Linked DNA regions of Homo sapiens: region 2 is linked to region 1. Evidence: fine-mapped expression QTL. Tissue or cell type: whole blood. Region 1 holds a variant in brackets; the other region holds the start of a gene. All regions are shown on one strand. Distances are between the middles of the regions.

Region 1 (2,763 bases):
CATCTGGAGTTGTTCTGAGGCCTGGTGTAACTCGTGTTCACCAGTGTCTTCTTCCGTCTCCCTTAGGCTCTCCCCCAGAATGGAATACAGTGAGGGGCCTGGCAGAATACTGGCCTAGGGCAGCATGGCCTGCCAGGCCTGCATCAGAAAGCTGCTCAGGCTTGCTGCCTCACGAGTTAAGATGCTGTCAGCTGCAAGTATCAGAAAACTGCAACCCAGTAGAGTTGAACAATAAAGAAAACACATTCTTTCACCTTGATCAGTAAGTCCCAGCACAGGCAGTTCTAGCATTGGCTAATTCATCAGCATAGCAGAGTTACTGAAAGACCTGTGTCCTCTGCATCTCTCTGCCCTGTCTCACAACGTGTTGACTCATCTTTCCTCGTGGTTGCCAGATGGGTGCTACAGGGCCTCGTGTCCTGTGTGGAAATGATAATATCCCTTGGAGGAAAAAGGGGATGGCTCTTCATGGTGTCTAAGGCCGAGACATCTTTTTCAGAAGGCTCCCAGCAGATATCCCCTGTGTCTCATTGACCAGAATGTCTCGAGTTACTCGTGCCTAAGTCAGCCTCTGGCATGGGAGTGGCTTATAACAATTAGTATTGACTCTGGGAGTAGCTCCAAAGAGCATACATTTGGGTGGGTCTCAGTTAGGTCCCTTGAGCTGTTATTCTACCAACGGTTTGAGGCAGGTTTGATTTATTTTTTGTTCTTTTTGGTTTTTAACAAAAACTTAAACATTACAGAGAAAGAAGCTAATGATAACCATGACTAAATAATGATAACCACGACTAAATGAATGATTTAACTCATTCTAGGTATTTACAATCGTTGTAAATCCAATTTGGTCTTTGATCAATTGCCTAATTTTGTTTTACATAATTGCAATCTGATTGTACTAGTTTTATCTTTTATTGTTTTAACGTCATTTCATACAGTAATCAACTGTGTGGTCTGATTCCTGAGTGTGAACTTTGAGCTACTACATCATTTACATCATCTTACTCCTACCTTTGGTGGGTAGTTTCCATATTTTGTTGCAGTTATTGCCATATGCAGCCATGAGTATTTTTGTTAAAATGACCTCTTTTCTTCTCCCTTTAGTGACTTCTTGGGAAGTGTTCCCCTCAGTGGTACTGCTGGGGCAACGTCCAATACCAAGAATGATGTATAGCATATTTCATCTTCCTACACTACTCTCTGGAAAGACTGAGCCAATTACGGGGTCATCTGTAAAGTCTAAGTGCTGCAGTTTCCCTACGACCATTGGATTTTGTTTGTAGTTTGATATTGTCTTACTGTCCCTT[G/A]AAGTTGTAATTTGTAATTCTTTAGTTTTCAAGAGGGACTCTACATGTTTCCTTGTGATGATGGCCTTGAGTTACTCATGTGTACACTGCCTATTTATCCCCATTGAGCCCCCACTGCCCGAACATGTTGATGGCATTTTATATAGTAAGCTGTCAGTTACTTAATGTACAAATATTCTTCCATTCCATGTTTTTCTCTTAAAATTTTACTTTATTGGCCAGGCGCAGTGGCTCACATCTGTAATCCCAGCACTTTAGGAGGCCAAGGCGGGCGGATCACCTGAGGTCAAGAGATTGAGACCAGCCTGGCCAACATGGTGAAACCCCGTCTCTACTAAAAAATACAAAAATTAGCCAGGTGTAGTGGTGGGCACCTGTAATCCCAGCTACTTGGGAGGCTGAGGCAGGAGAATTGCTTGAACCTGAGAGGCGGAGGTTGCGGTGAGCCGAGATAGCACCACTGCACTCCAGCCTGGGCGAAAGAGCTAAACTCCATCTCAAAAATAAATAAATAAATAAAAAATAAAAAAAGATTGTACTTTATTTGGCAATAATGTTTTTATTCTGAATTATTCTACTAGGTCCCTTTATTTCCTTGTGAAATTGTTCTTAATTGCGCTGGCCTGGAAATAGAGCCCATATGGTACTGGAGGGTGATGGTTTTTCATAATTTTTCTTATGCAACCACCCTTAGTGATGAGTCCCTAGAGGATTGAACTGTGCCTCATTCTGTGGACTGGACTTTTTGGAAACCCCTTTTTGAGCCCCCAGGAAGAAATTTGGCTGAGAGCTGATGCCTGGATGCTAGCCAGCTGGCTGCTGGCCATATCCAGCCACCCCAGTCCCCTGGCCATCTGTGCACCTCGGCAACAGAGTGGCGACTGACACACCCAGGCCCAGAAAGCCAGACAGACTGGCGGCTGGAAACTTCATGGAATCCTTGTAATTAGAAATGGAAAAGACCTGTTAGCTCGAGTGGTATCCTCCTCCTCCTCCCACAGGCCCCAACCAGCTTTAGAAGGTGACATATAATTTGCCCTGTCACCTGGAGCACTCAACTGAGTTTTCTGGGTCTTATCTGTGAAATCCAAGAGCTGGACCAAATCAGTGTTTTTTAACCCCTTTTGGGTCTTATGCCATTTTGGAAAGTGGTAGAAAGCCACACACCCTTTTTCCAGAGAGAGGCACATTTCACAGGCCATGTTGCCCTTTCAGGACATTGATAACAAGAAGCCTGTCTAGATCCTAGCCCACAGTCTTCAGGTTTGGAACCCAAAGACTTGTTGATCTCTGAAGTCCCTCTCAGCTCAGAAAACCCACATTCTAGAAAGTTTTCTGTCAAGAACCCTAGGTATGGAAATGGATAAAAGGGAGTCTCTTGTACTTAACTTGGAGGAAACCACTGTCCAGCCCAATGGGTTTCACTATCAAGTATTTTTATTTATTGTTTTATCAT
Region 2 (2,763 bases), 33 kb after region 1:
CATCTTGCCTCTCACTGAGATGAAACAGCAGGATGGTTCCTGGGACCCAGGATCCCTTTGAACGCTTGGATTAAAATAATTTATGAGTTCTTTGTGAGTGTGTGTGGACCTGCTGGTAGTGGCTTTTCTTCATTAGAATTTGCATGCAAGATTGACACTAAGATGGCTGACTTTCACCATCCCAAACCAACCCTGTTTTTGCACCGTGCTGTAGTGGTATGAATTACCTTGCAGGTAATTGTGGCTTAGGTGATGGTACACAAAAGGCATCATACAGCAGCCAGATGTTCATTTTACTAAATGGAAAATATGACTCAGAACACGGGCCAATCTGAGCCTCCAAGCAGGCAAATTAGCCATTGAGGATGAAGTCTTCACCTCTGGAGAGGAGAGAATGTGGGAGCACAGAGCCCAGAGTCAAATGATTTGGTTGAGATCCCCCCACTTTGGTTATTTAGACTTGCTTATACTCCTCTGACCAGACTATGGGATCTTCTACAGAAATTCTACAGAAGTGTGGGCAGAATTACAAGTAAGGTGGGTTGAGGAAGTGCACAGGTGGAAGTGTAGCCGAGAGGATGCGTTTGAGGAGCAAGAGGCTGGGACTCAAGAAGGCTTTATGCAGACTCGAATCTTACATTGATAACAAGCATTTGCGTAGCACATACGAGTTTCATCCTATGAAGGATTCCATAGGATTCTCACAGCAGCCCAAGGATGTGAGCAGAGCAGTAAACAATATCCCTGTTTTATAGAGGAAGTAGAAATCGAGAAGCAGGAAGGTTGGGTAATTTGCCCAAAGTTCCACCACTAGTAAATCGCAGAACTGGGACTAAAGCCCAGGTCTTCTGACCCTCACTGGGCCCAGCGTTCTTTCCAATATGTCATCCTGCCATTTTCCCCTTCCTTCCTCCTCCCCACAGCTCCTTGCAAGTTCAGCCTGCTGGAGGTAAGGGAAGTGATCATGAGAGTTTTTCCAGTGCTGAGACGTTCTGGAAAAAACATGGACCTGTATCTGTGTCCTGATCTGTGCTTCGTGATTGGACTGTCTTGACACTCGTCTCAGGACTCTGGGGAGTGCTTGTGCAAGTGTTTCCCAGTGTGGCCGGCTTCTTGAACGCTGCTAATGGAAAGTTGTAAGAGTTCTATTTTCCTGTTTCAAGCGAGCGTTTCCCCCTTGGGGTTATAGCAACCACTTCCTCCTCAGCACCCGGTGGGTCGTGGTAAACACCAGTTACAGCAGAGTATCCCCTTCTGACAACCTCATTGGTTCCTTTTTTTTTTTTTTTTTTTTTTTTTGCCTGTAAGCACATACACACAGAGTTCTGAAGGCTAGGTCTCCTTTCCTTCTGGTTTAGAGTTTTCAGAGTACCCTGCTGTGGCCTTGGAAACAGAAAACCCACACAGAGGTCAAACGCAGTTCTCGTGGAGTCACCTTGTCATCCTGCTTTGTTTTGGAAGGAACTGGGTCGGAGGCAGCACAGTAGGACTACAGCATCTTTAACCCTTGGTAGGATGGCTGGATCCGCTGAACGCTTGTGGGTAAACAGGAAGCTCACAGCCTCAGTGGATCATTAAGGGTGATACAGAATAGACACGAAAATCTTAAGTGGGATGGGAGCAGAGCAGGACTTGGTGGGTAGATAGTGAGGAAAAGGAGGCAAATAGGGATGGTGAAGAAATCGAAAGGGAATGGGGGATACAAGGAAAGGGTCAGGAAAGGGTGAGTAAAAGGTTTAAAGAGAGGTGCTAATTTTAGATACTTAAAAGTATTTTAAGTATCTAAAACTTGTGGCTGGGTGTGGTGGCTCACTCCTTTAATCCCAGCACTTTGGGAGGCCAAGGCGGGCAGATCACCTGAGGTCAGAAGTTCGAGACCAGCCTGGCCAACATAGTGAAACCCCGTCTCTAACTAAAAATACAAAAATTAGGCCAGGCACAGTGGCTCACGCCTGTAATTCCAGCACTATGGGAGGCTGAGGTGGGTGGATCACGAGGTCAGGAGTTCAAAACTAGCCTGGCCAAGATGGTGAAACCCCATCTCTACTAAAACTACAAAAATCAGCCAAGTGTGGTGGCAGGTGCCTGTAATCCCAGCTACTCGGAGGCTGAGGCAGGAGATTGGTTTGAACCTGGGAGTTGGAGGTTGCAGTGAGCCGAGATGGTGCCACTGCCCTCCAGCCTGGGCAACAGTGAGACTCTGTCTCAAAAAAAAATGTGTATATATAAATACTTAAAAAATATTTGTAATTGCTGGTTTGGGGTTACTAGAATCTCTTCTGAATCTGTCTCAGTTTTTCTTACAGCTTTTAAAATCCATGGAACTCTATCACCAGGAGATGATTGTGGTATGGAGCTGATCACCCCGGAGTTAGTGGGGTGGCAACTGAGATCGGGGGGAAATGGAGCAGTTTGAGGATATATGGGCCGTGAAAACCTCCCAGCTCTGCCCCCAGCCATGCCATGAAAGTCATGGGGAAGAAAGGCCCCCATTTGTGTGTTTGTGTTATTAAATAGAACAGTAACAGAGCAGGTCTCTGAGCCTGCCTGGCAGAAATCTTTCTGTAGCAGGAGTGTCCTGCAACTCTCTGGTGGATTTGCAAAACAGTACAGATAGAAAAACTTAAATGGGAAACAAGCTTGTCTTGTCCTACTTTGTGGAGATAGATAATAAAGCCGAAAGGCCAAGAAGTGTAAATATATAGCATATATCTAATGTATATGGTATATGTACATATCAATCTATAGCTATGCAATATCTAC

What was found. PIP is the estimated chance that this variant, and not a neighbour inherited with it, causes the effect.
Region 2: it holds the start of ITPKB-IT1, and the variant in region 1 is fine-mapped to the expression of ITPKB-IT1 in whole blood (TOPMed, PIP above 0.99).

The regions. Positions count from the first base shown.
Region 1 is chr1:226,706,257-226,709,019 of GRCh38, reverse strand. All of the region lies in intron 2 of ITPKB (inositol-trisphosphate 3-kinase B), which reads left to right. Among named protein-coding and RNA genes, the nearest start is that of ITPKB, 32 kb to the left of the region's middle. RefSeq lists a silencer at 226-401. The variant G/A (reference allele first, on the strand shown) is at 1,308.
Region 2 is chr1:226,673,664-226,676,426 of GRCh38, reverse strand. ITPKB-IT1 (ITPKB intronic transcript 1) reads left to right here and starts at 1,359. Exons shown (of 2, transcript NR_103784.1): 1 at 1,359-1,510. All of the region lies in intron 2 of ITPKB (inositol-trisphosphate 3-kinase B), which reads left to right. RefSeq lists a silencer at 228-377.